Linked DNA regions of Homo sapiens: region 2 is linked to region 1. A link means that fine-mapping ties the variant in region 1 to the expression of a gene that starts in the linked region. Tissue or cell type: whole blood. Region 1 holds a variant in brackets; the other region holds the start of a gene. All regions are shown on one strand. Distances are between the middles of the regions. Region 1 overlaps DNMT1 (DNA methyltransferase 1). Region 2 holds the start of EIF3G (eukaryotic translation initiation factor 3 subunit G).

Evidence for each region. PIP is the estimated chance that this variant, and not a neighbour inherited with it, causes the effect.
Region 2: it holds the start of EIF3G, and the variant in region 1 is the best candidate, but not a certain one, in a credible set for the expression of EIF3G in whole blood (INTERVAL, PIP 0.58).

What each region holds. Positions count from the first base shown.
Region 1 is chr19:10,182,617-10,187,985 of GRCh38, reverse strand. The region is part of intron 1 of DNMT1 (DNA methyltransferase 1); the gene reads left to right. Among named protein-coding and RNA genes, the nearest start is that of DNMT1, 9.7 kb to the left of the region's middle. RefSeq lists an enhancer at 3,551-4,051. The variant A/T (reference allele first, on the strand shown) is at 2,966.
Region 2 is chr19:10,116,788-10,122,156 of GRCh38, reverse strand. It overlaps EIF3G (eukaryotic translation initiation factor 3 subunit G), which reads left to right and starts at 2,258. Exons shown (of 11, transcript NM_003755.5): 1 at 2,258-2,317; 2 at 2,457-2,503; 3 at 2,986-3,069; 4 at 3,201-3,289; 5 at 3,430-3,489; 6 at 4,969-5,073; 7 at 5,168-5,357. The coding sequence starts at 2,298. RefSeq lists enhancers at 2,000-2,755, 2,756-3,512.

The sequences.
Region 1 (5,369 bases):
TTTTTGTTTAGGCAGGGTCTCTGCTGTGTTGCCCAGGCTGGTCTTGAATTCCTGAGCTCTATTGATCCTCCCGCTTTGGCTTCCCGAGTAGCTAGGCCTATAGGCACATGCTAGCACACCCAGCTAATTACTAATTACTATTTTTTGTAGAGACAGGGTCTCGCTGTGTTGCTCAGGCTGGTCTTGAATTCCTGGGCTCTAGTGATCCTCCCGCCTCAGCCTCCTGAGTAGCTAAGACTATAGGTGCATGCCACCACACCCAGCTAATTACTATTTTTTGTAGAGACAGGTTCTCGCTGTGTTGCCCAGGCTGGTCTCAAATTCCTGGGCTCTAGTGATCCTTCCGCCTCGGCCTCCTGAGCAGCTAGGAGTACAGGTGCGTGCTGTCATACCCAGCTAATTACTGTTTTCTCGTAGAGACAGGGTCTCACTGTATTGCCCAGGCTGGTCACAAATTCCTGAGCTCTAGTGATCCTCCCGCCTCTGCCTCCCGAGTAGCTAAGACTATAGGTGCATGCTACCACAGCCAGCTAATTATTCTTTCTTGTAGAGACAGGGTCTCGCTCTGTTGCCCAGGCTAGTCTCGAATTCCTGGGCTCAAGTGATCTTCCTGTCCTGGCTTCCCGAGTGTAGAGATTACAGGCATGAGCCACTGCGCCCAGCCATGGTCTGCTGTATTTCAGACGAGCATTTCTGGCGTAGAGGTGTTAGAGTAATCTAACATTTTATAATTTCTTCCTATCCAATCTATACTAGATACCTCTGCTGGGTTAGTTTTCTTAACACGGCTCTGATGTCATTGGTTCTACTTCCCCTTGACTGCTTTGGTGTTTGTTAACTATGGAACAAGATGGATAAGTGTGATGCTTTTGCCCTCCCTCCGACTGTCCCCAGCCACCTCTCTGGAGGTGCCTTTCCCTCCCTGTATGTGGCCAGTCTCACGTTTGTTTCTTGTGTGTTTCCAGAACCAGCCACTTCTCAATGGTGCCCCTGTTTGAGCAGCTTCCTGTGCCCGGTTCACACAGAGCTGTCAACTTCTTCCTGAGGCTGTTATACCCTTTCTCTTGGGAATCCCGCAGGCGTGAGCTGTATTTGCCTTATTCCTCTGTGGTTGTTTATATATATCTTTTTTTTTTTTTTTTTTTTTGAGACGGAGTTTCACTCTTGTTGTCCAGGCTGGAGTGCAATGACGTGACCTTGGCTCACCGCAGCCTCCACCTCCCGGGTTCAAGCGATTCTCCTGCCTCAGCCTCCTGAGTAGCTGGGATTATAGGCATGTGCCACCATGCCTGGCTGATTCTGGATTTTTAGTAAAGACGAAGTTTCTTCATGTTGGTCAGGCTGGTCTCGAACTCCTGACCTCAGGTGATCCGCCCGCCTCGGCCTCCCAAAGTGCTGGGATTACAGGCATGAGCCACCGTGCCTGGCCAGCTGTTTATATATATCTTATCTCCCCTCTGCAGAGGGTTCATCTCTGAGGGAAGCACTAGGAAGGAATCATAGGGTCTCAGGCTGGGCACTAAGCCGGCATTCTGAGTCCTCTGCTCCGTCCTTCACGGCTGTCTGCGACCCTCCTGGCTTCAGCAGGTGTGATCGGTGTCATCACAGTTTTACCAGGGAAGGGATGTCGCTAAAGTTACCCTCCCGCCAGCTCCTCACTGCCTGCCTGGGATCCCACCTGCCACTCTGGGGCCAGGCAGGTTAAATCCAGTTTCTACTGGATGAAACATTCTAGGGGTTTTGAAGGTTTCTCTATTCTCTTTGCCAGGCTAAATATCCCAGTTCATATGAGGGGTTGAAAGAAAGCAGACCCATTCTGCAAGGACACCTTGGTCTCCGCAATCAGTTGAACCTTGTCCTTCACACCCCAGGCAACCTCGGGATCAGGGGACTGGCTGGCTTGGTCGAGGTAGAAGCCATGTCCTTCCAGTTTTCTCAGCGGCGTGACTGAGAAGTCAAGTGTAACGCTATTACCACAGCGTGTGTGCCTCTGGCTGGAAGTACCAGTTTCTGTAGCCCTCCTGACTTAAGGCTCTCCTTGGACCCCAGTTGCTACAAGGGTAGAATGACTTTTGCCTGGAAGAGGTTCCTTGTGCTCCTGGAAATCCTGATGTCAAAGCATCTTTTTTTTTTTTTTTTTTTCTTTTGAGACAGGGTCTTGTTCTGTTGCCCAGGCTGAACAGGCTGGATTGCAGTGGTACCATCATAACTCACTGCAGCCTCAACCTCCCAGGCTCAAGCGATCCTCCCACCTCAGCCTCCCAAGTAGCTGGTACCACAGGTGCACACTAACCACACCCAGCTAATTTTTACATTTTTTTTGTAGAGATGGGATCTCTCAGTGTAGCCCAGGCTGGTCTCAAACTCCTGACCTCAAGTGATCCTCCTGCCTTGGCCTCCCAAGGTGCTGGGATTACAGGCATGAGCCACTGCGTCTTGCCTGGCCTTGTAGCACCTTGAGTCCAAGTGATACAGTATATATAATATACAGTCTATATTACCACTGTGTTTGTAGGGTGCTAAGTGTCTCTTCTACAGAGCAGTCTTTTTTTTTTTTTTTTGAGACAGAGTTTTGCTCTGTTGCCCAGGCTGGAGTGCAGTGGCATGATCTTGGCTCACTGCAAGCTTCACCTCCCGGGTTCACGCCATTCTTCTGCCTCAGCCTCCTGAGTAGCTGGGACTACAGGCGCCCACCACCACGCCTGGCTAATTTTTTGTATTTTTAGTAGAGGCGGGGTTTCACTGTGTTAGCCAGGATGGTCTCCATCTCCTGACCTCATGATCCGCCCACCTCAGCCTTCCAAAGTGCTGGGATTACAGGCGTGAGCCACCGTGCCCGGCCCTACAGAATGGTCTTTCCTAACCACACAGCAAGTCAGGAAGTCCCTGCCTAGTGACACCTACATCTAATCACTTAGCTCTTTGCCTGGAGCAGGGCCTGGCATTCAGCAGGTGCTCATATGTG[A/T]GCGGCGCTGGTGGGGAATCAGGGCCCGCATGACCCAGAGCAGCTGTTGTAAGACATGGGTCCAGCAAAGCATTCCTCATGCTGCTGCCTGCACTTACCCTCTAGGAAGGCCAGCCTGGAGGAGCCACTTCTGCCCTTCAGGCAAATGATAACTGAGCACCTGTCTGTGCGGGTGCTAGGTGGAAAGGTCCAGAGATGGCAGTGGCCTGGTCCCTGCCTGGGGCACCTTCTCTCCACCAACAGACACTTACCCAGCTGGTTAGGCCTGTTCTCACCCCGCAGTCTGTAGTTAGCACCCAGGCTGGGAACAACAGCCTGTGTTCCTCTCCCTTTCCTTGGTACCTTCTCTTCTTGTTCCTTTATTTTTTTCTGAAGAGATAGGATCGCCCTATGTTGTCCAGGCTGGACTCGAACTCCTGCCCACAAGCCATCCTCCCACCACAGCCTCCTGAGTAGCTGGGGTTACAGGCACGCAGCACCGCGGCACTGCACCGGCTATTGTTCTTTTATTTTTTTCCCTCTTTGTCCCTGAAAGAGTCAAGCTACTAATTGTCAGTAATCAAATCAGACCACGATTTCCCAGGCAAACTCCTGGCAGTTCTACATTTAGGAATGACTAGCTAGAGACATCCTGAAGAATGAGTTATTCGGGGAGGCGCCAGCCACCTCCTCTAACTTCACCTCTATCTGCCCTCTGTGTGGGTACCCCTTGCTTCCCTGGATGCTTGACTCCCCCATTTCATCCTCAAAATGCCACCACCCCCCACCAGGCCTTTAGGAACATCAGCTGGCTGTTCCCCACAGTGTCCTGTGGCCCTGGGCTACTCATTCTGACACTGGCCATACTGTGGCACACCTTGTTATGGGCTGTTGTCAGACCCAACTGGAGAAAGACCAGCTGTAGGTCATTTCCCTTACGGGAGTGCCCCAACTATATGACCTGCCCCCTCTTTCCTGGTATCTTTTTGAGTCAGGGTCTCACTCTGTCTCCTAGATTGGAGTGCAGTGATGCAATCACGGCTCACTGTGGCCTCGACCTCCCAGGCTCAGGTGATCTTCCTTCCTCAGCCTCCCAAGTAACTGGGACCACAAGCACATGCCACCAAACCCAGTTATTTTTATTTTATTTTATTTTATTTTATTTTGAGACAGAGTTTCACTCTTGTTGCCCAGGCTAGAGTGCAATGGTGTGACCAGCTCACTGCAACCTCTGCCTCCCGGGTTCAAGTGATTCTCCTGCCTCAGCCTCCCAAGTTGCTGGGATTACAGCCACCCACCACCACGCCTGGCTAATTTTTGTATTTTTAGTAGAGATGGGGTTTCGCCATGTTGGCCAGGCTGGTCTCAAACCCTTGACCTCAGGTAATCCACCCACCTTGGCCCTCAGGTAATCCACCCAACTGCTGCTGTATGTTGGGATTCCAGGCATCAGCCACCACGCCCAGCCACTAATTTTTGTATTTTTGTAGAGATGGAGTTTCGCCATGTTTCCCAGGCTGGTCTGAACGCCTGGGCTCAAGTGATCCGCTCGCCTTGGCCTCCCAAAGTGCTGGGATTATAAGCGTGAGCCACCATGCCTGGTCTCTGGTACCTTTTAAAATATACAGGCTGGGCATGATGGCTCATGCCTGTAATCCCAGCACTTTGGGAGGCTGAGGCAGGTGGATCGCCTGAGGTCGGGAGTTCGAAACCAGCCTGACCAACACGGAGAAACCCTGTCTCTGCTAAAAATATAAAATTAGCTGGGTGTGGTGGTGCATGCCTGTAATCCCAGCTACTCGGGAGGCTGAGCCAGGAGAATCGCTTGAACCTGGGAGTCGGAGGTTGAGCTGAGATCACACCATTGCACTCCAGCCTGGGCAACAAGAGCAAAACCCTATCTCAAAAAAAAAAAATATATATATATATACACACGTATATATACGTGTATATATATATACACACACATATGTATACATATATACGTATGTATACACATATATACGTATATATACACATATATATGTATATATACACACATATACGTGTATATATATACGTGTATATATATATGCATGCCAGACATGGTGACTCATGCCTGTAATCCTAGCACTTCAGGAGACTGAGGCAGGCGGATCACTTGAGGTCAGGAATCTAAGACCAGCTTAACCAACATGGTGAAACCCTGTCTCTACTCAAAATACAAAAAATTAACGAGGCTGGTGGCACCTATAATCCCAGCTACTTGGGAGGCTGAGGTGAGAGAATCACTTGAACCCAGAAGGTGAGGGTTGCAGTGAGCTGAGATCGCACCACTGCACTCCAGCCTGGGCAACAGAGCGAGACTCCATGTCTGTCTGTCTGTCTATCTATCTGTATAATGTATATGTATGTATGTATATATGTGTGTGTATATATATACACA
Region 2 (5,369 bases), 66 kb after region 1:
GAATAATTTTTTCCACAAGAAAAGTTGGTGATATTCCAAACACTTGAGTGGCCTCCTCACTCACAACTCAGAGGATAAAAAAGCATAAACTTTTTTTTCCTGTCTTCTTATTTATTTTTCTCAGGGCATTCTCCCTTACAAGTTATTTTTTGTTTTGTTGCGTGTGTGTGTGTGCGTGTGTGTGTTTTTGAGACAGGGTCTCTCTCTGTTACCCAGGCTGAAGTACAGTCGCATGATCATGGCTCAACCTCCTGGGCTGAAGCTGTTCTCCCACCTCAGCCTCCTGAGTATCTGGGACTACAGGCACACAGAACTATGCCCAGCTGATTAAAAAAAAAAAATTTTTTTAAGGGCCGGGCGCAGTGGCTCACACCTGTAATCCCAGCACCTTGGGAGGCCGAGGTGGGCCCCCGTCTCTACTAAACCGTCTACTAAAAACACAAAAATTAGCACGGCGTGGTGGTGGTCATCTGTAATCCCAGCTACTCGGGAGGCTGAGGCAGGAGAATCACTAGAACCCGGAAGGCAGAGGTTGCAGTGAGCCGCGATTGCGCCGCTGCACTCCAGCCTGGGCGACAGAGTGAGACTCCATCTCAAAAAAAAAAAAAAAAGTTGTTTTTTAGAGATGGGGGGTCTCACTATGTGTTGCCCAGGCTGGTCGAATTCCAGGGCTGAAGTGATCCTTCTGCCTCAGTCTCCCAAAGTTCTGGGATTACAGGCGCGGGCCACCACACCCAGCTAATTTTTGTATTTTTAGTAAAGACGGGGTTTCGCCATATTGCCCAGGCTGGTCTCGAACTCCTGACTTCAAGAGATCTGCCCATCTTGGCCTCTCAAAGTGCTGGGATTACAGGCGTGAGCCACTGCGTCCGACATTGTCAAACGTTTTTTGTTCATTATCACCCTTCTTAGGAGAAAACCCGAATTATCCTAAAATTGAATTTACATCAACTAAATTAATTTCAATTTAATTACATTTAATATCTCCCTAAAGGCAGAAACTAAATACTTAGGGATAAATGCTGTCTGATAGAGCTGGCTTTGGAAGACCACAATATCTAAGATTTTTTTCCTCCCTGAGGACCAGTTTTTTCCCCTGGGGAGTCATCATGAATCACTTCGACTGAGGACGGTTGTGCTTAGAGCAAGGAGCTGAGCAATAAACAAGTAAATGCACAAAATTATACCGGAAAGCCAAGAATGCTACAAAGAAAAGAAGAGGGAGTGGCTGAGGGGAGGCCACTTGGCATCTGAATCATTGGGATCGGGAAAGAAGACAAGGAACAGTTTAAGCAAAAGGATTGTTTTCCCCGAACTTTGGTTTCTTTTTTCTTTCTTTTTCTTTTTTTCTTTTTTAGAGACAGGGGTCTCACTATGTTGCCCAGGCTTGTCTCAAACTCCTGGCCTCAAGCCATCCCCACGCCTTGGTCTCCCAAAGTGCGGGATTACAGGCAGGCGCCACTGCACCCAGTCTGAGCCTCAGTTTCTTCAGCTGTAAAATGGAAGTAATATCCTCCTCACCATGCTTCATATACAATAAGCACTCAATAAGTGAGCTTTATGATTATTATTATTTATTTTAATTTTACTTATTTTTCTGAGACGGAGTCTCACTCTGCAGCCCCAGGCTGGAGTGCAGTGGTGCGATCTCGGCTCACTGCAGCCTCCGCCTCCTGGGTTCAAGCGATTCTCCCGCCTCAGCCTCCCGAGTAGCTGGGATTACAGGTGCCCACCACCACGCCTGGCTAATTTTTTTTTTTTTTTTTTTTTTGAGACGGTGTCTCGCTCTGTCGCCAGGCTGGAGTGCAGTGGCGCGATCTCGGCTCACTGCAACCTCCGCCTCCCGGGTTCAAGCGATTCTCCTGCCTCAGCCTCCCGAGTAGCTGGAACTGCAGGCACGCACTACCACGCCCAGTTAATTTTTGTGTTTTTAGTAGTGACGGGGTTTCGCCACGTTGGCCAAGCTGGTCTCGAACTCCTTACCTCAGGTGATCCGCCCGCCTCGACCTCCCAAAGTGCGAGGATTACAGGCTTGAGCCACCTCGCCTGGCCTATTTTAATTTTAAAGGTTAATAGGACCAGCCCTGAAATCAGCCTCTGCCCCCGCTGGCCCTACTCTGGTACCAGCAGCGCCCAGTAGCATACACAGCCGCGTGCGCCTCCACCTCCGTCCGCAGGTGTCGCTGTGGGTGCCGCGGCTGGGCCCCTCTAGGCGGCGACGGCGGCACCGGAAGTCTCGTTTTCGCCCGCTTCCGCTCTCTGGCCGGGCTTGGGCTGCGTGGAGAATACTTTTTGCGATGCCTACTGGAGACTTTGAGTGAGTCGGCGATCGCGGAAAGGGGCACGGGAAGCGGTTGGGGTGCTCTGGGAAGTATTATGGGGCCTGGGTACGCCGAGGCTGCGGGAGCCGGGCCTGGCTGACTTAATCTTCGTTCCCCACACATTTGTTTCCGCAGTTCGAAGCCCAGTTGGGCCGACCAGGTGGAGGAGGAGGGGGAGGACGGTAAGTGTACACGGTCGCCCGGGGTATTCGCGGCCAGGCCCAAGCCGTGTGACTGCCGCCTGCTTCCATCTCCCAGTCTGGCACCGTGTACCCCGTCACGGTCTGCCCCTGCCCCGCGCCATCCTCCTTGGGACCCGCCTGTTGCCAACTCCAGGTGTTCCCCGGCGGGTCCCTCTTCCTCCCATGCCACTGCCTCCCAGCTGTTCCCCTCCAGGGAGGAAGTTGTAATCTCCCGTCTCCTGTTTCTCTACTGGCGCCTGGTTGGCTTCATGGCCTGGCACCCACCTTCCTACGAGGGATCTCCCATCCTTGCCACTCCGAGTCCCCACAGGGCCATCCCAGTGCGTTGCCTGGCCAGCCCTCTGCCCTTGGCCTGCCTTTCTCCGCTTTTGCTGTAGGCGTCATCCCAAAAGCCCTTCCATCGCAGCTGGGGAGCTCCTGCCCCTGGAGCTGACTCCTCCTTCCTACGCTGCCTTTTGCAGACAAATGTGTCACCAGCGAGCTCCTCAAGGGGATCCCTCTGGCCACAGGTGACACCAGCCCAGAGCCAGAGCTACTGCCGGGAGGTGAGTGAGGACTGCCGGGAGGTGAGTGAGGACTGCCACTCGGTGTCCGGGCTGCCTCTCCCTCCAGCCCTGCCGCTCCTGATCCCCATGACCCAGGGCTCAGTCTTTCTCTGTTTTTCCCCTTCTGCCAGCTCCACTGCCGCCTCCCAAGGAGGTCATCAACGGAAACATAAAGACAGTGACAGAGTACAAGATAGATGAGGATGGCAAGAAGTTCAAGGTGAGGGTGGGGGGTGCAGGGAGTGGGGACCCTTGTGCTTGGGGGCCCATAGACCGGAATGGGGTGGGGTGTGTTGAGGAGGTTGATAAAGGAGATCCCTTGGTCCCAGGAGCCTGACCCTTCTCCCCTCCCATCCTCAGATTGTCCGCACCTTCAGGATTGAGACCCGGAAGGCTTCAAAGGCTGTCGCAAGGAGGAAGGTGAGGCTCTTCTTCCCCAGGGCTAACCTAGAGGAATTGGAAAACCGTGCTCCCGGACTTTGTGTTTAGAGATGGGGCTTAACTCTTTTTTTTTTTTTTTTTTGAGACAGAGTGTTGCTCTGTCCCCCAGGCTGAAGTGCAGTGGCACGATCTCGACTCACTGCAACCTCCGCCTCCTGGGTTCAAGTGATTCTCCTGCCTCAGCCTCCCGAGTAGCTGGGGTTACAGGCATGTGCCACCACGCCAGCTAATTTTTGTACTTTTAGTAGAGACGGGGTTTTGCCATGTTGGCCAGGCTGGTCTCGAACTCCTGACCTCACATGATCTGCGCACCTAGGCCTCCCAAAGTGTTGGGATTACAGGTGTGAGCCATCGCACCCGGCCAGGCTTACCTCTTTGTACCTATTTTGTTGAAGCTGAACTGAGGCCTGGGGTGCTTGCACTGTCTTGGGGCCCTGAAAAGTCCAAGGCACAGCAGTCGATAAATAGCAACTAAATAAATGATGATAAATATCTAATCAAAGTTCGATGATAGATATCAAATTATATTAATAAATATCAAATAACATCGATTGTAAATATCGAATAAAAATTAGATTCTTTTAATTTTTTTAAAGACACAGTGTCCAGTTCTGTTGCCCAGGCTGGAGTACAGTGGCACGATCATAGCTTACTGCAGCCTTGAACTCCCAGGCTCAAGCCATCCTCCCACCCCACCCTCCTGAGTAGCTGAGATTACAGGTGTGCACTGCCACACCGGCTAATTTTAATTGTTTGTAGAGATGGGGTTTCACTATGTTGCCCAGGCTGGTCTCCAGCTCCTGGGCTTGAGAGATCTCCCACCTTCGCCTCTCAAAGTGCTGGGATTACAGGAGGGAGCCACTGCGCCCAGCCACGGTTAGATTCTTATTCCTCTTGGCCTGTCAACCTGCAGGAACGGAAGCAGGAGGTGGTCGCAGCAGTTTTTGGAAGAAGCGTTAGCAATAAGTATACTTAGAACAGCTTGCTGTGCACTTAATTGTAACATACCCCATGCCAAGCACCTTGCACGAAGTGTTTCTCATTCAGTCTCCTTAGGAGCCCAGGGAGGCAGGAAGCTTTTGTGGTTCCCGTTTTATAAGGGAGGAAGCTGAGGCTCAGGTTGTCTAGCTCAAGGGCCCGGAGGTCTAGGTGGACCCCTGCACATCCCTGAGTATTGCGCCCTGGTGGGAGCTGGTCCGCCAGACTGCGCAGGCCCCACGCTGTGTAGCTGTCACCTGGACCCGGAGGCTGACAGCTGCCCTGCCTCCTGGAGCTCAGGCCTGGCGTGTACTCAGGAAACAACTGTCGCCAGGACTGTTCAGGGAGTGCTTGAGGAGGATGAAGATGGGGTTTGAGGCCCAGACACTCTGGGGGTGGCTGTTGTAGGTCTAGGGCACCCCACTGTGGAACCCAGCCTGCCCCTGCCCTCAACTGTCCCCCATCCCTCCCTGAGCCCAGAACTGGAAGAAGTTCGGGAACTCAGAGTTTGACCCCCCCGGACCCAATGTGGCCACCACCACTGTCAGTGACGATGTCTCTATGACGTTCATCACCAGCAAAGAGGTAAGCGGGGCAATCAGGTGGGGCTGGCATCCTGGGGTGGGGCAAAGGGGGTGCCTTAGCCGCCTCTGAGCTCCCCCCAACCCGCCCCTGCCAGGACCTGAACTGCCAGGAGGAGGAGGACCCTATGAACAAACTCAAGGGCCAGAAGATCGTGTCCTGCCGCATCTGCAAGGGCGACCACTGGACCACCCGCTGCCCCTACAAGGATACGCTGGGGCCCATGCAGAAGGAGCTGGCCGAGCAGCTGGGCCTGTCTACTGGCGAGAAGGAGAAGCTGCCGGGAGGTGTGGGGGTGG